Linked DNA regions of Homo sapiens: region 1 is linked to region 2. The links come from fine-mapping of genetic effects on gene expression. A gene starts in region 2. The other region holds a variant in brackets. All regions are shown on one strand. Distances are between the middles of the regions. Region 1 overlaps TRPM6 (transient receptor potential cation channel subfamily M member 6). Region 2 holds the start of TRPM6 (transient receptor potential cation channel subfamily M member 6).

What was found. PIP is the estimated chance that this variant, and not a neighbour inherited with it, causes the effect.
Region 1: its variant is fine-mapped to the expression of TRPM6 in whole blood (TOPMed, PIP above 0.99).

Annotation. Positions count from the first base shown.
Region 1 is chr9:74,857,093-74,868,690 of GRCh38, forward strand. TRPM6 (transient receptor potential cation channel subfamily M member 6) reads right to left here. Exons shown (of 39, transcript NM_017662.5): 2 at 1,577-1,656. It also overlaps the pseudogene RNU6-445P. Among named protein-coding and RNA genes, the nearest start is that of TRPM6, 25 kb to the right of the region's middle. The variant T/C (reference allele first, on the strand shown) is at 4,881.
Region 2 is chr9:74,881,631-74,893,228 of GRCh38, forward strand. TRPM6 (transient receptor potential cation channel subfamily M member 6) reads right to left here and starts at 6,291. Exons shown (of 39, transcript NM_017662.5): 1 at 6,194-6,291. The coding sequence starts at 6,226. RefSeq lists an enhancer at 5,383-5,677.

The sequences.
Region 1 (11,598 bases), 25 kb before region 2:
CCTGAATCAACTTGCATTCCATTGCAGTCACCACCACATGATGTCATAAAAAATGAAGGGGAAAAACAAGGTTATCTTGGCATACTATAAACCTTTCTTAAGCAGGTAAAAAGAGAATTTCCAATCACAAGACTTACAAATCATAGGTAATTCAATAAGGGTGGGACTAGTAAATATTTAACAAAGGCAAAGAACACTATTTCAGTCATCTCCAAAGAACTAGAATTTCAAAAACCTTACCTTGCTACCCTTCATAACACATAGTTATGAGTTCTAAACCTTAAAGGCATATAAGGACAAATGCCCAAAAAAATCTAAAAATAGGTTGGTTCCTTTACTTAAAATATTACTCTTCTATTTTCCTTTTAATTAATTTTTCCAAGGGCAATGTCAATCTTAATTTCACAGACCTGATTACCCAGAGGAATTTTCCATAGCCCTTTCTTCCCCTATCTTTCACTAGTTGCTTTTTTGACCTTTGTTTTACAAGTAGAGCTTCCAAAGCATTGTCAAGAACTCAGTAGTCAAACTCAAATTATTCCATTCTGCTACCGATTATCTGCTCAATCCAAAAGCCTATGGGCGCTCACTTCGGTAGCACACATATTAAAATTGGAATGATACAGAGAAGATTAGCATGGCCCCTGCTCAAGGATGACATGCAAATTCATAAAGCATTCCATAAAAATAAAGTCTATGGAAGGAAAACGGAACTGAAATTACCTGTTCATCTAATCTGGGCACAGTGTACTTAAATATACCAGTCACTATTTTCCACAGATACTTTAGTTGGGGATAAGAAACATTCACAATATTTTGAATATTCAGTATTCAGAAAATGTAATTTATTGATTCCAACCCACTGAAATGGATGTAACACTAGATATTTCTGTAACGTCTATCCTCCCATCAAGAGGAACAGAAGAATCAAGTAGAATGAAATCCACGACAATATTAACAGTGACGGCATTAAGAATAACTTCTTTGTACTTCATTAAATTCCTTAAACAGATATTTATCGCTCGGTGGCTCACGCCTGTAATCCCAGCACTTTGGGAGGCCGAGGTGGGTGGATCACGAGGTCAGGAGATTGAGACCATCCTGGCTAACACGGTGAAACCCTGTCTCTACTAAAAATACTAAAATTAGCCGGACGTGGTGGCAGGTGCCTGTAATCCCAGCTACTCGGGAGGTTGAGGCAGGAGAATCACTTGAACCCAGGAGGTGGAGGTTGCAGTGAGCTGAGATTGCGCCACTGCACTCCAGCCTGGAGGACAAGAGCGAGACTTCGTCTCAAAAAAACAAAAACACAGATATTTATCAAGAGCCTACTATGTGGCAGGCACTGTCACAGACACTGGAGTAAGAGTAAGGTAAAAATGGACAAGGTCCCTGTTCTTCCCAGATTTTCTACAATAATCATGTATTATTTTTATAAAGTGAAAGAAATAAACATTGAAAATTCTAACTTTATAGATATGATCAAAACTTCTAAACAAGTCATATTTCTAAGTTTCTATAAATAGTCCATCAGGTAGTGTTGCTTTTAAAAGAAGAAGGTAATTGAAAATTTTACCTGTGAGGATTTTTTGAGCTGGGTATGATTGTGCTACATTCTCTCTTGTCAAATACTCCTTTAATCCAGGATTTCTGGGACTAAAAAGAAAGTGTCATTATTTTATACTCTAATTATGTGACAAAACAATGTAACCATAGTAGTTCCTGCAGGTAAGAAATACTCAAGTATCATGAATGCTAATTAAAATGCCAAGACCAACCCCACACAGGCTAAGCATTTACCAGTTTCTATTACAGATAACATAGGCACAAATAAGCCAAATGTGAACATTAAACGACACGCAAAGTGAATATGCCCATAATCTCACTTTGAGTAACAAAAGCCCTACATGAACAAACCCCTAGCAAGGAAGTAAAGATGTAACTGATATATCCTCTTAAATCTGCCAAAAGTCACTTTTATATCTTGTACCATAATCCTATGGAATAAATACCAAGCTCCCGAAACTTCAAAATTTTTACCCATCAAGTCCCACTTTGGCTAAGATTTCACAGGAAGCTGGAAAGAGTGTCAGAGAAGAGATGTGACTCAGCAAGATTCGATACACATTCTGCAAGCATAGTTTTACCATTGGGTGTGTTGTTTCAGGTTGCACAGCCTAGAACTGTCCCTAAATCCAAGTGAGATGTTGATACTCACTCTTCCTCCTAATAAACTCTCTCCCATTCTACAGAATCCATATCATAGCCAAGCTCCTCCATAAGCTATATTACAAGTCCAGTGGCAGAGGACACTGGATGGACTATACATCCCAGCTACTTGTGAGTAGTTCTAATATAAAAATATTTTGGCTGTAAATGGTATAAGAATACGTGTCCTAGCTGGGCGTGGTGGCTCATGCCTGTAATCCCAACACTTTGGGAGGCCAAGGCGGGTGGACCACTTGAAGTCAGGAGTTCGAGACCAGCCTGGCCATCATGGTGAAACCCCGTCTCTACTAAAAATACAAAAAATTAGCTGGGCATGGTGGCAGGCAACTATAATCCCAGCTACTCAGGAGGCTGAGGCATGAGAATCGCTTGAACCTGGCAGGCAGAGATTGCAGTGAGCCGAGATTGCACCACTGCACTCTGGCCTGGGTGGCAGAGCGAGACTCTGTCTCAAAAAAAAAAAAAAAAGAATATGTGTCCATATTACTTTATACACACATAGATATTAGAACAGAGATGAAAGGAAGGCTTTCTAAAAGGGAGCTTTTTCAAACTCCACGTCAGTGCAGTCCCCACCTCACTCATATCTACTCCCATTCTACTGTGGAAGGAAATGCACTGGGCCAGAAAATATGCTACAAATCCAGCTGTGGTACCTCATTATCACACTATCCTCAAAAAAAGCTCAGTGGATCTTGTCCAACATGCACCAATCCTAAACGTAAGTGTTCATCACTGAACAGAACTGTAGATAATGGAAGTCCAGACTTTTTTAAGTAAAATAGAAAGGAGAAAAACAGAGATTAGTTGATGGGTTCCTGTGTATTTAAATCTTACCTATAAACAAGGAAAACTTCCCAGATCAAGGCCAGAGTCATCTTAAATCATTTTACTCTCTTATTCTTTTTGCATGCTCAGCAGCATTTTCTATGTATTAAAAGACATTCACTAAATTGGCAAAACACTAAAAAACTTGGGAAAACCCAGTCATACAATGTAATTATTTATTTATTTATTTATTTTTATTTTTTTATTTTTTTTGAGACGGAGTCTTGCTCTGTTGCCCAGGCATTCCAGCCTGGCTCACTGCAATCTGGCGCAATCTCGGCTCACTGAAACCACTGCCTCTAGGTTTCAAGCGATTCTCCTGCCTCAGCCTCCTGAGTAGGTGGGATGATAGGCATGCACCAGCATGCCTGGCTAATTTTTGTATTTTTAGTAGCAACAGGGTTTCACCACGTTGGTCAGACTGGTCTCAAACTCCTGAACTCAAGTTGTCTGCTTGCCTTGGCCTCCCAAAGTGCTGGGATAACAGGCATGAGCCACCACACCCAACCCAGAATCACAGAACTTAAAAGGAACTAAATGAACAGGGAATTCAAAATCTATATTTCAATAAGAAATGACACAATCCGGCTGAGCGCAGTGGCCAACACCTGTAATCCCAGCACTTTGTGAGGCCGAGGCAGGTGGATCACTTGAGCCCAGGACTTCCAGACCAGCCTGGGCAACATGGTGAAACCCTGTCTCTACAAAATACAGGAATAAAAACAGCCGTGCATGGTGGCATGTGCCTATAATTCCCAGCAACCCAGAAGGCTGAGGTGGGAGGATTGCTTAAGCCCAAGGAAGTCGAGGCTGCAGTGAGCCATGATTGTGCCACTGCACTCTAGCCTGGGCGACAGAGTGAGACCTTGTCACAAAAAAAAGAAAGAAAGAAAGAAAGAAATGACACTATCTTTTTGAATCAGTCAGCCCTGTCCCCTATTCAAAAACGTTAACAATTTCATTTATTCATTCTCCAAACATTTATTAAATACCTAATTTTTGCAAAGCACTGACAAACATGTTACAAAAAGTCAGTATGTCCTCAAAGAATTCTTCATTCTGAATTTCAAAATACCTGAATCTATGAATTCATTCAACAAATATTTTGAATAGGCCCCCACGCTGCATGCTGGGACTTCTATTGCAAACGAGACAAAGTTCCTGCTCTCAAGGAAGTTAGAATAAAAAGGAGGAAACAGATAAGAAACTGATATCATTAAACTTTATGTGCACCAATTAACTATTTTTTTAATTTTTTGTATTTTTCATGCCTCTGGGACAAGTTCAAGGCCAATTAACTATTAAAAACAGATGCTAAAAGGGTATCTAATGTAGAAGCCTGTATAGACAAAATAGGCAAGCTGTGCTCAACCATTCACTTCTTTCAAAATGCTGAATGGCAGCTTTGTAGTAGGACTACCTGAACAAATTATTCGATTTCTTCATGCCTGTTTGTCTATCAAAATGGGGATAATAATAGTACCTCATAGAACTATTGAAAGGATTAGATAAAGGTTTAGAATTCTTCCTGGGACTTATTAAGTCTGAATAAAGCTCAGGTATTATTACTAGCAATATTAAAAGTAAAAACTGGCTTTGGGTTAATGGTCTGGGAACTTAACTTTGATGTATTTTTTTTTTCATAGAATAATGCCTCCTGACCTCCAAATTTCCCTCACAGTTCCTCTCATACTATGATTTAATGACCTTTACAGGCTCACATCTTCCCTGGACTCCAACTCCTATAGGCCCCATGCCAGTCATTTCTATTGCCCCAGGGCCTAACCCAATGATTGTTGAATGAGCAACAAACATGCTGAAAA[T/C]AGAACTTCAGGAACCCATGTATACTATTTTCCCTCCAAAGGTGTAAACAGGAAGCCCGTGTCATAACAAGAATGTGGAAACTTTCCTCCTTCAACTCCGGTTATCTTATCTCAAAACTACCAGAAAAAAAAAAAAAAAAAAAAAGCAGCCTTTAGCTTGAAAATGTTTCAAATAATTCTCAATTTAGAACTTTACTTCCCACCCTGCCAACCTCGTAATAGTTCCTTTGCAATATACTCTCCAGCACACTTCCGAGAGGCCTCCATGTTCAGTTCAACAGAGAACCAAATGTTTGTTGGTTCTGATAGGACAAACACCAAGTGTGCTAGCTTCTGCCACTAGAGCAGCAAATTTGTTGTGGTCGTGGTAGTTGAGAGTAAGGATTTTGACATTTCTGCAGCTATCATGGCAGTCTTCATCGACTGGATGTTTTTTGCTTTTTAATTGTTGTAATTTAGGGGAGGGAAAGGCAAAGGAGAAAGAAGGGAAATGGTGTGTTGGTCTCAATTTGTGTCATCCTAAAACATAATCAGATTTTATATCTAATCTTTGGCCTGAGGTCAGGCTGGGGAATTGCAAAGAAATGTTCACAGACTAACATAGTGAGATACCTTGGGGAGGGATCCAAGTCTGAATGTGAAATTCATTTATGTTTCATATACATCTTATATGCACAGACAAAAGGTAATTTTACACAATATTTTTTAAAAATTTATACATAAAATTGTCCGGGTGTGGTGGCTCACGCCTGTAATCCCGGCACTTTGGGAGGCCAAGGCGAGCAAGTCACTTGAGGTCAGGAGTTCGAGACCAGCCTGGACAACATGGCAAAACCCCATCTCTACTAAAGATACAAAAATTAGCTGACGTGGTGTCGGGCGCCTATAGTCCCAGTTACTCAGGAGGCTGAGGCATGAGAATCACTTGAACCCAGGAGGCAGAGGTTGCAGTGAGCCGAGATCATGCCACTGCACTCCAGCCTGGGTGACAGAACAGGACTCTGTCTCTAAATAAATAAATAAATAGTTTTATGCATGAAACAAAGTTTTTTTGTTTTGTTTTGTTTTTTGTTTGGTTTTGTTTTGTTTTTTTGAGACGGAGTTTCTCTCGTTGCCCAGACTGGAGTGCAATGGCACGATCTCGGCTCACTGCAACCTCTGCCTCCCAGGTTCAAGTGATTCTCCTGCCTCAGTCTCCCAAGTAGCTGGGATTACAGGTTCCTGCCACCACATCGAGCTAATTTTTGTATTTTTAGTAGAGATGGGGTTTCACCATGTTGGCCAGGCTGGTCTCAAACTCCTGACCTCAAGTGATCCACCCGCCTCGGCCTCCCAAAGTGCTAGGATTACAGGCGTGAGCCACTGTGCATGACTGAAACAAAGTTTTAACTGCATTTCAACTGCCACCTGCCACATGAAGTCAGATGTGAAATTTCCCGCTTATGGCACTCAAAAAGTTTCAGATTTTAGAGCATTTCACATTTCAGATTTTCAGAGTAGGGATGTTCAAACTGTATTTCCACTTTATGGCTTTTTAGGGTTCCCAGATAAATTATCTTGGGGTACTCTCTGAGAAGGCATAATTTCACAGATGTTCCTTAATCTTCAAAAAAGTGACTTTTTTTTTGAGACGGAGTCTCGCTCTGTCTCCCAGGCTGGAGTGCAATGGCGCGATCTCGGCTCACTGCGAGCTCCGCCTCCCGGGTTTTACGCCATTCTCCTGCCTCAGCCTCCTGAGTAGCTGGGACTACAGGCATGCACCACCTACGCCCGGCTAATTTTTTTTTGTATTTTTGGTAGAGATGGGGTTTCACCGTGTTAGCCAGGGTGGTCTCGAACTCCTGACCTTGTTATCCGCCCAACTCGGCCTCCCAAAGTGCTGGGATTACAGGCATGAGCCACCGCGCCCGGCAACCTTTTTTTTTTTAAAAAAACATCCACAAGTTTGCATGATTGGAGGTAAAGGGAGACAAAGATAACAGGTCATTTGTTTTCTTTCTACAACTTTTTTGCACCTTAAAAAAAATCTATCATCTAACAACTACTTCTTCAGTGGAACTGATAACTGACTCCGATTTTGATTTCCTGCATTCTCTCTTACACACATCACAGCACTAACAATGTTTACTTGCATTCACTGGACCATCTCTCTCTCTCTCTTAACCTTATTGTAATCCACTTCAAAAGAGAGCATTATTTTATTTATCTTGGAATTCACAACACTAGAATGGGTCAAATAGACAATATTTTCAGACTCCAGATCAACATTTGTTATTTTTTCTTCAGAGTGCCTCCCTTGAAGCAAGAATCCCTTCAAAGTGCCAGGTAGATGGACATCAGGATGTACCATCAATCAATCTGTTGGCTCAGGGAATCCATCAGTGCAAAGCCAGCCCATCCACTTTCAAGTGTCAGCTCAGGGCCTTCTATCTGTCCAAATTCTGCAAGGATACCTACCTGACACTTGATCCGAGAGGGGCAGTCTCAGAAAAACAGCATCCAGGCTAAAAATATCTAAAAACCAAGTTCCTGTTCCACCAACACTACCAGAAAGTGTGTTGACTGATTTTCCACTAAATAGTCTGTCCAGGAGGCAGAGAACACAAAGTAACCTTACACCTTCATCTCACTTTGGTGGTAAAAGGTGAGCACTATTTAGCTGGTAGTAATTTATTTTTGGTAACATCTCTAAAAATTGAATGTCAACTAAATAATTCACAATTCCCTAAAACGCCATTTCTCCTGAGTAGTTGAGAAATTTTACTAACATTTTCACATAGTGCTTTGCTAAGCAAAGGCATTTAGAACCTTGGAATGAGGCCTGGTGCAGTGGCTCATGCCTGAATCCCTGTACTTTGGGAGGCTGAGGTGGGTGGATCACCTGAGGTCAGGAGTTCGAGACCAGCCTGGCCAACATGATGAAACCCTGTCTCTACTAAAAATACAAAAAATTAGCCACGCGCAGTCGTGGGCGCCTGTAATCCCAGCTACTCAGGAGGCTGAGGCAAGAGAATCGCTTGAACCCAGGAGGTGGAAGTTGCAGTGGGCTGAGATCGTGCCACTGCACTCCAGCCTGGGCAATGAGAGAGAAATTCCCTCTCAAAAAAAAAAAAAAAATGGAACGTCAGAATGAATTTCTAGATTATATAAACTCAAGAGTTAAGGAGTAAAACATTTATAAATCTTCCTGGAGCCAAATAGGGGATTAGAGGAACTCAACAGTAACCTTCCAAGTAAAGTGCATCAGAAAGGTGAAAAGTGAAGTGATATCATACCCCTTCCTTCCTCTTTCCAAATTGGTTGAAGCCCTCATTATTTCAGCCCCAAAACCCAATTTCAAAATAGCAGCGAAAGACATCCTTTTCCTCAGTTGTCACTCACGCTTCAGGGTTTAACCAGTCTCCTGGGGAATAAAACATGCAAATGAAACATTTATAATTTCAGATCTTGTTAAATCATTCTGATAAAAAGGGAAGAGGAAATGGAAGTCTCCTTTATGAGTGTACTTTACAACTGTCCCTCGATAGTAAAATACAGAGATTTAACCAAATGCTGGGCCTATTTGTAGTACAACCACTCTAATCTGGTTAGATTTTCCACCTACATGCACTCAATTCTCTCCAATTTCCAAGCTCCAAAATGCTCACAAATTTGTTATCTATGTACACAGATGGTCTTCATTTATGCTCCAAATATCTTGTTAAATTATCCAAAACTTTACTAGTACTACATGCAAATAAACTACATGACCTAAAATAAAGTCTTTTTTGGAGTGGCTCATGAAACTATGCTTTTATTTTTGTTTTAATACAGAGTCTTGCTATGTTGCCCAGGCTGAAGTGCAGTGGCTATTCACAGGCGTGATCACAGCACACTGTGGCCTTGAACTCCTAGGATCAAGTGATATTCCTGCCTCAGCCCCCTGAGAATCTGGGACTACAGATATGTACCACCATGACTGGGGAAAATATACTGTTAAATAATTGACTTTTAGGAAACTTACCAACCTCTCAGACAATAAAGCCTTTATTAGAAGTTACATGTTTGGCCAGGCATGGTGGCTCACGCCTAGAATCCCAGCACTTTGGGAGGCCATGGCTAGAGAATCATTGAGCCCAGGAGATCAAGGCCAGCCTGGGCAACATATCGAGACCCCGTGTCTACGTCCAATAATATAAAAAATAGAAACATTTTTAAAAAGAAGTTACAGGTTAAATTTTATTTATGACATTCATAGTAAGGTTTATATAGACAATGGAGATTATTTGTCTTATTTTTTTCAGTATAGCACAGCACAAAGAAGACACAACTGGATTTTGCTCCTTAAAATTTGGGGGACACTCATACCACGTGTGTAACTTAGACAAATTCAAAAGCTTTGCTAAAAGAATGAGAGAAGGCTAGAAGGTGAAAAATAAGACAGAGAGAAAAACAGTTTTAATAGTGTGGGCAGTTTCACTGTCATTCCACTATCAGTAGGTTTGATTTTTTTGGGGGGGTTTTTTGTTTTTTGTTTTTTTGTTTTTGAGACAGAGTTTCACTCTTGTTGCCCAGGCTAGAGTGCAATGGCGTGATCTCGGCTCACTGCAACCTCAACCTCCCAGATTCAAGCGATTCTCCTGCCTCAGCCTCTTGAGTAGCTGGGATTACAGGCATGCCCCACCACACCCGGCTAATTTTGTATTTTCAGTAGAGACAGGGTTTTACCATGTTGGCCAGGCTGGTCTTGAACTCCTGACCTCAGGTGATACACCCACCTCAGTCTCCCAAAGTGCAGGGATTACAGGCGTGAGCCACCGCATCCAGCCTCAGGAGTATCTTATTTCCAAAAGCAGCAGTTCTGAAACTTCTTGAGCTTAGGATCCTTTCATAATCATAAAAACTACCAAGTACTCCAAAAAGTATTTTGTTTATTTAAATTATGTCTACCAATATTTACCACATATGAAATTAAAACTGAGACATTTAAAAATATTTACTTATTAGTTCATTTTAACCTGTTACATGCTAACACAAAAATTTTCCAAAAAAGTTCATAAACAGAGCACTGTCTTATGTTTTTGCAAATCTCTTTCATGTCTGGCTAAAGATGGCTAAATTCTCATGTTTGCTTCTGCACTCAATCCTTTGCAATAAGTGGTTTTGCTTGAAGTATACAAAGAAAATCTGCCTCACAGAGACATGTAGTTGAAAAGGGAGAGTATTTTAATGGCCTTTTTAGATCATTGTGTATTCATCATGTACCCTTGGGAAAACTCCACTGTACACTCATGAGAAAATATGTCAAAAGGGCAAATAGCATCTTAGTACCATTATGAAAATAATTTTGACTCTGAGGACCCTCTGAAAAGGTCTTAGAGACCTCTAGGAGTCCTTGGACCACATACAGAGAACTACTGCACACAAGTGACTGTGTGTAGACACTAGAGTGGAGTCTGTGAGAGCAAGAATATACCATTCCCCAGATGGTCTCAGTTCCCACATGCATATCTTAGTCTGCATACCTCATCTTAATGAGTAGATTCTAGATCCCCTGTTTAATCTGGTACTCAACTGAAGAAAGTTCCAACACAAGATAAAATCTTCATGTACTGTATTTTATGCTCAATGAAAGGGACTTTTCAAGGGTAGTTTGGAATGCATTCAATTTCTAAACTTACAGCCAACTTTAATGCCTACCACACCCACCCTCCAGAAGATGTCGTTAAATTCAGTGACCTTGGGAAGCTTGCGAAGTGTGGAACCAGCCCTTTACAATCCATAGGCAGGATACATCCTATCAGTTTATCCACCTCTTTTAAAACATTGAAACCTCGAAAGGAAGAAACAAATGAAAAGAAAAATTGATACCTCTAAGAATAATAGGTTTATTCATTCATTTAAAAAAAAATACTTTGATGGCCAGACGCAGTGGCTCACGCCTGTAATCCCAGCACTTTGGGAGGCCGATGCACAGGGTCACGTGAGGTCAGGAGTTCCAGACCAGCCTGGCCAACATGGCGAAACCCCAACTCTATTAAAAACAAAAAAAATTAGCTGGGCATGGTGGCACAGGCCTGTAATCCCAGCTACTCAGGAGGCTGAGGCAGGAGAATCACTTGAATCCGGGAGACAGAGGTTGCAGTAGGCTGAGATTGCACCCCTGTACTCCAGCCTGACAGAGCGAGACTCCGCAAAAAAAAAAAAAACTTTGACACCTCATGTTATTCTAATTAAAATAAATAAAACAAAAAAGTGTCCCGCCGGGTGTGGTGGCTCACGCCTGTAATCCCAACACTTAGGGAGGCCGAGGCAGGTGGATCACCTGAGGTCAGGAGTTTGAGACCAGCCTGGCCAACATGATGAAACCCCATCTCTACTGAAAATACAAAAATTAGCTGGGCATGGTGGTGCATGCCTGTAATCCCAGCTACTCGGGAGGCTGAGGCAGGAGAATCATTTGAACCCAGGAGGTGGAGGTTGCAGTGAGCTGAGATCATGCCACTGCACTCCAGCCTGGTCGACAGAGCGAGACTCCATCTCAAAAAATAAAATAAAATAAAATAAAATAAAAAGTGTCCCAAATGCCACCAGCAAATGAGAAGCACTTATGTTAACAAATGGATACTAAGTAAGGAAGTGGGTCATAAATGTTACAATCGTAGGCAACAGGACACTAGTGAAGGAGAAATTCCTTCTGCCTGTAGATACTTGAGATGTTTTCATGGAAGACATGGAA
Region 2 (11,598 bases):
CACATTTTTATCAGCATGTGGAACATTCTCCAGAATAGACTATATGGTAAAACACAAAACACATCTCAACTAATTTTTAAAAATCAAAATCATATCATGTATCTTCTCAGACCACAAGATAAAGTAAAACTAGAAATCAATAATAAGAGGAACTTTGGAAACTGTACAAAAGTATTCTTATAGCTATAGTAACCAAAACAGCATGCTATTGGTATAAAAAGACACATAGACCATTGAACAAAATAGAGAACACAGAAGTAATTCCACATTTTTACAGCTAACTGAATTTTGACAAAGGCATCAAGAACATACATTGGTTACAGGACATCATCTTCAATAAATCATGCTGGGAAAACTGGATATTTATATGCAGCAGAATGAAACTGAACTCCTATCTCTCACCATATACAAAAATCAACTCAAGATGCATTAAAGACATAAATGCAAGACTTCAACTATAAAGATACTAGAAGAAAATATAACGGAAACACTTCAGGACATTGATCTAAGCAAAGATTTTGCAGCTAAGACCTCATAAGCACAGACAACAAAAACAAAAGTACACAACTGATTCAGTGCTTCTTGGTTGGTTAAAAAGAAAAAAGAGAAACAAAAATACACAAATGAGACCATGTTAAACTAAAAAGTTTCTGCACAGTGAAGGAAACAATCAACAAAATGAAGAGACAATCTGTTGAGTTGGAGAAAATATCTGCAAACTATTTATTTGACAGGGGACTAATATCCAGAATATTAAAAGAACTCAAACAACTCAACAGTAAACACAAAACAAATAAGCCCACTGAAGAGTGGGCAAAGGACATGAATCAACGTTTCTCAAACGAATACATACAAACAGCCAACATGCATATGAAAATATGCTCAACATCACTAATCAGCAGTAAAATGCAAATCAAAACCACAATGAGATATCATCTCGCTCCAGTTAAAATGGTTATCATAAAGAAGACAAAAATTAACAAATACTGGCAAGGATGCAGAGAAAGGAGACCCTCATACACTGTTGATAGGAATGTAATTTAGTACAGCCGTTATGGAAAACAGTAATGGAGGTTCCTCCAAAAACTAAAAATGGAATTACCATTCAATCCTGCATTCCCACTACTGAGTATTCATCCAGCTGAAAGCAGATTCAACCACCTATTCAAAGTATAAGACAAAGCCCACTACAAAGGAGTCTGTGTGAGAATCTCTTTTTCCATTTTTGTTTTAATTGTGGTAAAATATATAATGTAAAATTTACCATCCTAACCATTTTTAAGTGTGTAGCTCAGTTTTGCTAAGTATATTCACATTGTTGTGCGGCCAATCTCCAGAACTTTTTCATCTCGAAAAACTGAAACTCTATACCCATTAAACAACTAAACATTTCCCCTCCCCTAGCCCTGCCAACCATAATTCCACTTTTTGTTTGTATGAATTTGATTTCTATAGATGCCTCATAAGTGGAATCATACAGTATTTATCTTTTTGTGACTGGTTTATTTTACTTAGCATTATGTCCTCAAGGTTCATCCATGTTGTAGCATGTGTCAGAATTTCCCTCCATTTTAAGGCTGAATAATATTCCCTTGTGTATATATGCCATATTTTGTTTATCCATCCAGAAAATCTATTTCTATGTCAGTGGTATTGTTCTGTTGGTCTGGTGGCACAACAGGTATTTAGCTCAATTTTTAATGATTGTGATTTTATACCAAGAGAAAAAGAGATGTGATTGTATATTTGCACTCTAGGAAAGGAAAACCAAATTAAAGCTGAAACTGAGCTCAGTTTCATCGAGAAGCATCTCACTATCCCTTTCTATCTCAAAAATAAAAGTTTTATTCACTGTATATTCCCAGATTCTGGAAGACAGTTTGGCACATAACACTCGGTCAGTATTTGTGACTGATTGTGAAGAGAAAATGCTATACCTATGATCTTGATCACTCCAGTTCATCTGAACATACTATTCAAGAAGGCACTAATGTGTATTGACATGGAAAAATCTACAGGAACTACTGTTAAGTGAAACAAGTTACAGATCAATATATACAATATGATTCAATTTATTTAAAAACACATGCAAAGCCAGGCACGGTGTCATGTGCCTGTAATCCCAGATACTTGAGAGGTTGAGGTAAGAGGATCCTTTGAGCTCAGGAGTTCAAGACTAGCGTGGGCAACATAGTAAGATTCCATCTCAATAAAATAAAATTAAATTAAAATAAATAGATCGGGTGCAGTGGCTCATGCCTGTAATCCCAGCACTTTGGAAGGCCGAGGTGGGTGGATCACCTGAGGTCGGGAGTTCGAGACCATCCTGACCAACATGGAGAAACCCTGTCTCTACTAAAAGTACAAAATTAGCTGGGCATGGTGGCACATGCCTGTAATCCCAGCTACTTGGGAGGCTGAGGCAGGAGAATCGCTTGAACCTGGGACGCAGAGGTTGTGGTGAGCCAAGATTGTGCCATTGCACTCCAGCCTGGGCAACAAGAGCAAAACTCCATCTCAAAAAATAAAGTAAATAAATAAATAAATGCACAAATCAAAATAATAAATACATATGTATGGCCAGGCACAGTGGCTCACACCTATAATCCCAGCACTCTGGGAGGCTGAGGTGGGCAGATCACGAGGTCAAGAAATCAAGACCATCCTGCATAACAGGTGAAACCCCGTCTCGACTAAAAATACAAAAAATGAGCCGGGCGTGGTGGCGGGTGCCTGTAGTCCCAGCTACTCGGGAGGCTGAGGCAGGAGAATGGTGTGAACCCAGCAGGCGGAGCTTGCACTGAGCTGAGATCGTGCCACTGCACTCCAGCCTGGGAGACAGAGCGAGACTCTGTCTCAAAAATAAATACATATATACATACATACATACATACATACATACATACATACATACGTATATAAAAGCACATCTAAATAATATGCTCCAAATCAACAGTTTGATTACCTCTGGGTCAGAGGGGGAGTAGTTGAGGGGTAGAAAGGGAACTTTCTATTTGGATTTCTATTTGTAGTATTTGAATTATTTACAACAAGAAATTATTTTTATATTGTTAGTGACAAAGTTTTTAAGGGAAAAACATCTGGAGAATTATTTTCTGTGATACACAATCAAGGAAAAAAACATATTCAATTCTGTTTACCTTACATGTACCTTTTCTTAGAAAGCTACTGGAGAATGTGCTCCATCAAAATGATAGAAGAAATCAAAAAAGACTAAGGTGTGGGATATAGGAAACAGGAGCCAGCATAACAGAGATGCAAAGTGAATCAGTCCCCAAATGATGGTGAAGAGAGAGCCCAAGGTAATAGCTGTGCATCAAACATCAAGAGCAACCAGTCTGGACTGGCAAAGCAGGTAAGAAAGCTGTGATAGAAATAAAATTGATTCAAATAGCTGTTGCATTGGACATCTTGAGGGAAGATTTAGACAACTAACAAAGAACTTGTGGTTAAATTGGTGAAAACTTTGCAAACACAGAGAGACAACTCTGGAAAAAAACAAGGAAGAAAGCTTTTAATAGCATGTAGGGAGGCATAATAATGTTGACCTAACTAAATATTGACCTAACCAAAAATTATGAGATAACTATATTCAGAGGATCTATGGAAGGAATAGGTAGGATGCATGTAAGTGGTAGTGGCAGGAAAACAGAAAAGAGTTAAATCCACACATTTCTTGCAGGAAAGTCAATGCATGATGACTAAACCTCAAAAACCAAGAAGGAGCAATTATAAGGAATATCTAGAGATACAGACAAATAGTAACTAGTTAAAAGAGATGAACATGATTACTTCTCTTAAAAAGCAGGAAGTGATGGAGGGTTCTACTGTTTTTAGATATTAACCCTATGGAATTAATTGATTCTGAACAATGAGAACGTAAAACTTCAATAAAACTAAGAAGTAAAGAAAAAAGGCACTAGTGAGACTCACATCATAATATCTTACCTAACAGTGATGGATTTTACAGAAAATAGTTGCCATGTAGACTTCTGATGTGTCACAAAGGAATAACTGAGTTATAGGTAGGATGGTCACTTTCAGTTCCAGCATGGTATTGATTCTACCAGAAGTATAATGAAAATCACTCAGATTATTTGGGCTGTTTATACTGAAAACTCATGATTTAAAACACAGTGAGGCCAGGCACAGTGGCTCAGGCCTGTAATCTTGGCACTTTGGGAGGCCAAAGAGGATTGCTTGAGCCCAGGAGTTCAAGACCAGTCTGGGCAACACAGCGAGACTCTGTCTCAAAAAAATAAAATAAAATAAAAAGTGAGAAATTTGAAAAAGAAGGAAAAAGAGAGAAGCCATATTTCAGGCACAGTATTTACCAAATGCTTGATAGTTTTGGCATAGATGTCCTATCCAAAAAATTAACTATGATAGATAATTGTAAATAGGCAAGATAAGACCAAAATTTGTGACAAATTGCAACATATTGCACGATTCTTTCCCTTCACCTCTGGTATAATGATCTCAAATGCTATTCATGCCCTTGTCTATCAAGACAAGTTTAACACTACCAAAGGGTACTAGTCTCCAGTTTTGGCCCAAAAAACAAAACTCATGCTAACTCCTACCCTAGATGGTTACCACTCCTGGTGGGAAACATAAGAAACAACCAGATTCTTAAAGTCAAGCCCAGATTCCAGTCTGGCCAAAATAGCTAACGCTTTATCAGTCCTGTAAGAACCCAAAGCAGATGACAGTGAAACATCAAAATCTGTATACAGGGGGAAAGAAATTGAATAACTCGTTTCCCACTTTAACAATTAAAGGTGATCATTTCTCCCTAGAACAAATAATCACAAATGATGTGTATGACTAGAACATCTATGTTCTCAGTGTCTTTTTTTCTCTTTTTTTTTTTTCTTTTTTATGTTCTCCGTGTCTTAAAGCACTGACCTGAGTTCAAATCTCAAATCTGCTTTTCTCCTTTGGTTTCATTTTCCTCACCTGTAAACCGGTGGAGATGGGAGAGACAGGATACTTGGACTTTATAGGATTACTGCCAGGATGAAATAGTTAAGAATCCCAAACTCTTACAACCTGCTAAATACGTCAGGCATTATTCTAAGTGCAAATGGCATGTAGCATTTCAATTCATCTTGAAACTACAAATCGTATTATCCCATTTTCCAGATGAGAAAGCCGAAGAACAGATGTTAACTCGCCCAAAATCACAGGTAGTGATGCAGCTGGGATGCTAATTCAGGCTACCTGGCTCCAGAGCATATGTTCTTATCAGAGCAGGCTGAAATGAGCTAACGTTTGCTAAGCTGCCTGGACTATTCCTGAAATACAATGTGCTCAATTATACTTATTTTTCATACACAGTGTGAGAAAGTCCAGACAAAATAGGCGAGACCAAGAAATTACCAGGATCTCCACTACTCTCCCAAGCGTCTCCAGTGCTCTCCCAACAGCCAGGAGCACCCTCCCTCTCCAAGCCCCCAGAACTTCCTGTTGCGCCATATGCCAGCGGTGGAGAGGAGCCAGCGGGGACTCCTGAGGTTGCAAGTCCGGGCGGCGCCGCGTTGGGGAAGGAAGCGGACTGCGGCGGGGCGGGTGTTTACCGTAACCGGCGCTGTCATCGCTCCGGGACTCCTGCACGGGGAACACTGGGCGCACGGGGACGCGCAGGGGCGCGGAGGGACGGCCGTCTGGGCACTTCTCCAGCCGCCTCGGAAAGCCGCGACCCCCGGCTAGTCAGCGTCCGGGTCTGAGATCTGTGCCCGTGGCAGCTCAAAACGCGCCTTCTCTCCTCCGGATTCTCAGCTCAAGCCACCTCCGAACTCCTCTCCCTCCGGCCCGGAGCGGAATCAGAGCTGCCTCCTCTCCCGGGGTGTTTCCCACCGCCCCGAGCTGAACCCCCGACCCCCGCTAGGTTTCCGCTCTGACACCACCTCCGCTATGGCCGCATCCCAGCTCTTGAAACGGGGGCTGCGGGACCTGCCCTGTAGTAGCGTACACTACCTTAGATAGGATAATCATCTTTGGGTGGAGACCAGAGAACTTGAAAGCCGGTATTTCATAAATCCTAGCTATTCTAGATCCTCGTTAGATGTAGTGTCCCTGGCCCCACCCACTTCTATCTAAGGCCGGGGGCGCAGATCTAGCGAATCGCCTAAGGTCCTTGTTCCCCGCCAGTCGAGCAGCCTGAGCTTACCTGCAAGCGCTCCAAGACAGGTTGTTCTTTCATCTTTGATTTGCAGGCCCTGCTCCCAAAGCCCTGTCTGAGCTTTTAACTGTGGAGGCAGAAACTCTGGGCTCCACCTCCACACGCTGCCTTTTACAGCCCAGTGGATCTGTCACAATACCTTTCGGCTTCAGTTACCTAACTGCCTAGAAAAGAAGGTGACTCTCAGTTTCCTTCGATAAAAGAAGAATAACGAGGATCAAATGGGATGGCCACTGTCATCACAGACATCCTTTGTAGTAATGTATTGTTACTGTTGAGTCAGTGTGGGGCGTGAGGAGATCAGAGATTTAAGCTAACGCACTGCTTTTACTACCTGTGACTTATTGGGCATGTCAAGCCTCAGTTTATTTATCTATGCAATGGGAATAATAGGGACAAAAATCCAGTTCCCTCACAAGGTTACAATGAACAAAGGAAATCACTTAATGTGCTTCATGTGTAACATACAATACAAATGTTTTGTTATTTCTGGTTTTTTTTTCATTTTTTTTGTTTGTTTTGTTTTGTTTTGGTGGATTCCTCTGGATAGGCATCTTCTCTTTCTTTCTTTCTTTCTTTCTTTCTTTCTTTCTTTCTTTCTTTCTTTCTTTCTCTCTTTCTTTCTTTCTTCTTTTTTTAGAGATGGAGTCTTGCTCTGTTGCCCAGGCTGGAGTGCAGTGGCAGGATCATGGCTCACTGCATCCTTGACCTCCCAGGCTCAAGTGATCCTTCCACTTCAGGCTCCAGAGAGTAGTTGGGACTACAGGCACACACCACAGTGCCTGGCTAATTTTATTTATTTATTTATTTATTTATTTATTTATTTATTTATTTATTTTAGAAATGGGGTCTCACTATGTTGCCCAGGCTGGTCTCAAACTCTGGACTCAAGCGATCTTCATGCCTCAGCCTTCCAGAGTGCTAGGATTACAGGCGTGAGCCACCATGCCCGGCCTAGGCAGTCTTGATTAAGGTTGTGGTCAGTGATTTGGGGTGGATCCCAGGGTGTTGGCAGAGGTGGCACAAAGCACACAGGCAAAATGATGCTCACATTATTACAAGTGTAATTAACAATGCTAGTCATTCATCCCTGACAACCGACTTAAAATTAGGGACACCTACTCATTTAGTTTATTATGAATTTTTGCCTGGTGAATTCACATTTGCAGACAGTTTACAGGTTTTTTCCCCTCATTTCTCAATGTGGTTTTAATAAGCATTTCTTTGTTTATTGGAAAATTGTAATCTCTCATATGTGTATTGGCATTTTGTTGTTTTTCTTTTTGTTGTTGTTGCTGTTGTTGTTGAGCCAGGGTCTCGCTCTGTCACCGGGCTGGAGTGCAGTGGCACTATGTCGGCTCACTGCAACCTCCACCTCCTGGGCTCAAGCAATCCTCCAGCCTCAGCCCCCGCAAGTAGCTAGGACTACATGTGCAAGCCACTACACCTGGCTAATTTTTGTAATTTTTGTAGATACGGAGTTTCACCATGTTGCCCAGGCTGGTCTCGAACTTCTGAACTCAAGCAATCCACCCACTTCAGCCTCCCTAAGTGCTAGGCATTTGTTGTTCTTCTATAAACACATTTAATCTCCTTTCCTCTCCTTAACCCATCTTCTTTAAAGCGTTAATCTGTAAACAGTTAACAGGTTCTGAAAGCTCTTCTAAGGCAAGTAAATCCTTCTCGATCTCTGTCTTCCATACAATTTCTTTGTTAGGTCTCTTACAGTGACTGGGTCAGAGAGTTCTCAGAAATCTTCAGACCCACCAAGAAGAGTAGCCATTTGGAACTCAAGATTTGTAAGAAGTCTACCATCTTCTAGTTTACCATCTTTGGTAAACCTACATGTTAGGATGATCATATATTCTTTTCAGATCAAGCTTCAAGGCATTTAGAGCCTGAAATACAAGGGCAATGTGAAGTGCTTAAAGCATTGAATGTACTAGTTTACAAGCTGCCTTTGGTTCCCAAGCTGTATCAGAAACATCTGAGGCATTTGTCAAAAGTGCAGATTCCCAGGCTCCAACCACCCTACCCAGATCTCTTGTATCAGGATTTATAGGGTGGGGCCCAGGAATCTGTATCTTTCACAAGCACTTTAATCAGTTGTCAAACTTGTATATAAAACTTCTTGTCCAGGCATGGTGGCTCATGCCTGTAATCCCAGCATTTAGGGAGGCCGAGGCAGGAGAATCACTTGAACTCATGATTTCGAGACCAGCCTGGTCAACATGGCAAAACCCCATCTGTACAAAAAAAAAAAACAAAAATTAGCCACGCGTGGTGGCTTACACTTGTGGTGCCAGCTACTTGGATGGCTGAGGTGAGAGGATTGCTTGAGCCCAGGAGGTCGGGGCTGCAGTGAGCTATGATGGCACCACTGCACTCCAGACTGGGCAACAGAGTAAGACCATATCTCAAAAAATAAATAAATAAAAAGAAAACTATTCTGGGCACAAACATACCTATGCCCAGGGTAGCTGTGAAAATTAAATTTTAAAATATTCATTAGTAGTCTAGTGTGGTTTGATTCAGGCCAACAAATATTTCCTGAACATAGACTGTTTGTCAGGCATCATGCTGGGCACCAGGAAAACAAAGATGAATAAGACATTGTCCAGTCTACAAGTAGCTCAAGTTTATAAGAGGAAGATGAACAATCAAAAATGAAACTGGGAAGAGGTGGAGCAAGAAGGTGGAATAGAAGGCCCCGATCATCCCCTTTGTAGGAAAACCAAATTCAACAACTATGTACGCACAAAAAAAGCACCTTTCTAAGAACCAAAAATCAGGTGAGCACTCACAGTAACTGGTTTTAACTTCATATTACTGGAAGAGGCACTGAAGAGGTAGGAAAGAGAGTCTTTTTTATTTTTAACTTTTATTTTAGGTTCAGGGGTACAGTGCAGGTTTGTTTTATAGGTAAAGTCATGTCATAACAATAGCCAATAGTTATTTTTTCTGATCCTCTCCCTCATCCCACCCTCCACTCTCAAGGAGGCCCTAGGGTCTGTTCTTCCCTCTTTGTGTCCATGTGTTCTCATCATTTAGCTCACAGTGAGCTTGTAAGTGAGAACATGCCATATCTGGTTTTCTGTTCCTGCATTTGCTAAGGATAATGGCCTCCAGCTCCATCCATTTCTTGCAAAATATATGATCTTGTTCTTTTTTATGGCTGTATGGTATTCCCCGGTGTATATGTACCACACTTTTTAAATCCAATCTGCCATTGATGAGATTTAGGTTGATTCTATGTCTTTGCTATTGTGAATAATGCTGGAGTGAACATACGTGTGCATGTGTCTTTATGGCACAACAATTTATGTTTCTTTGGGTATATACCCAGTAATGGGGTTGCTGGGTTTAGTGATTGTTCTGTTTTTAGCTCTTTGAGGAACCACCACACTGCTTTCCACAATGGCTGAACTAATTTACACTCCTACCAACAGTCTATAAGAGGAAAGTCAGTATTGAATTGTGGATGCTACCCCTTCCCCACCCATCCACAGCAGCCACTTGGCATGGAGAAATCTGTGTGATTGGGAGAGGGAGAAAGCAGCGGTTGTGAGGCTTTGCATTGAACTCAGTGCTGCCTTGTCACAGCAGAAAGCAAAACCAGGCTGAACTCAGCCAACGCCTGCCCACTGAGAGAACATTTAGACCAGCTCTAGATAGAGAGGAATCATCCATCCCAGCAGTCAGAACTCAAGTTCCAGCAAGCCTCGCCACACCACAGACTGGAGTGCTCTGAGGCTCTAAATATTCTTGAAAGGCAGTTTAGGCCACGGGAACTGTAAATCCTAGTGCTGAGCTGGGCTCAGACCAAGTGGACTTGGGGGGCGTGTTACCTACTGAGACACAAGCTAGGACAGCTAAGGGGGTGCTTGTGCCACCCCTCCCCCATCCCCAGGCAACACAGCTCCTGCCAAAAGAGACCTCCTTCTTCCACTTGAGGAGAGGAGAAGGAAGAGTAAAGAGGGCTTTGTCTTGCACCTTGGATACCAGCTCAACCACAGTAAGACAGGGCACCGGTCAGAGTCATGAGGCCCCCATTCCAGGCCCTAGGTCCCAGATGACATTTCCAGACACACCCTGGGCCAGAAAGGAACCCACTCCCTTGAAGGGAGGGACCCAATCCTGGCAGGAACCATCACCTGCTGGCTAAAGAGTGTTTGGGTCCTGAGTAGCCAGCAGTGATACCTAGGCAGTATGCCGTGGACCTTGGGTGAGACTCTGAGAGGTGCTGGCTTCAGGTGAGATCCAGCACATTCCCAGCTCTGGTAGCTACAGTGAGAGACTCCATCTACTTGAGAAAAGCAGAGGGAAAAGTAAAGGGGACTTTGTCTTGTACCTTAGGCACCAGCTAGCCACAGTAGGGTTGAGCACCAGGCAGGCTCTTGGGGTCCCTAATTCCAGACCTTGGCTCTTGGACAGCATTTCTGGACCTGCCCTGGACCAGAGGAGAGCCCACTGCCCTGAAGTATGAGTCCCAGGCCTGGCAGCGTTCACCACAAGCTGACTTCAGAGACCTTGGGCCTTAAGTGAACATCAGCAGTAACCTGGCAATACTCCTCATGGGCTTGTGGTGGTGGTGGCCATGGGATGAAGCTCCTCTGCCTGTGGCAAGTTGAAGGAAGAATGAGAAGGGCTGTGTCTCATGGTTTGAGGCCCAGCTTAGCCACAGTAGAATAGAACAGGTAAACTTCTAAGGTTTTCGACTCTAGTCTCTAGCTGCCAGTCAGCATCTCTGGACCCACCCAAGGCCTGGGGGAATTCACCACCCTGAAAGGAAGGACACAACCCTGGCTGGCTTCATCACCTGCTGATTGCACAGCCCTAGGATCATGAGTAAACATAAGCAGTAGCCAGGTAGTGGTTACAGTGGGACTCGGGCAAGACCCAGTGCTGTGCTGGCTTCTGGTCTGACCCAGAGCAGTCCCAGTGGTGGTGGCCACAAGGGTGCTTACATCACTCCATACCCAGCTCCAGGTAGCTCAGCACAGAGATAGAGAGACTCCATTTCTTTGGGAGAAAGTAAGAGAAGCTAACAGGAGTCTCTACCTGGTAATCCAGAGAATTCTTCCAGATCTTATCCAAGACCACCAAGGCAGTACTGTTAGGAGTCTGCAAGAACCACAGCATTACTGGGCCTTGAGTGCCTCCTAATGCAAATACAGCTTAGATTATAACACCCAAATCCTTTTGAATTCCTGGAAAGCCTTCCCAAGGACAAATACAAACAAGCCCAGACTGTGAAGACTACAATAAATACTTAACTCTTCAATGCCCAGACACTGATGAATATCATCCACAGGCATCAAGACCATCCAGGAAAACATGACCTCACCAAATTAACTAAGGCACCAACAACCAATCTTGGGAAAACAGAGATA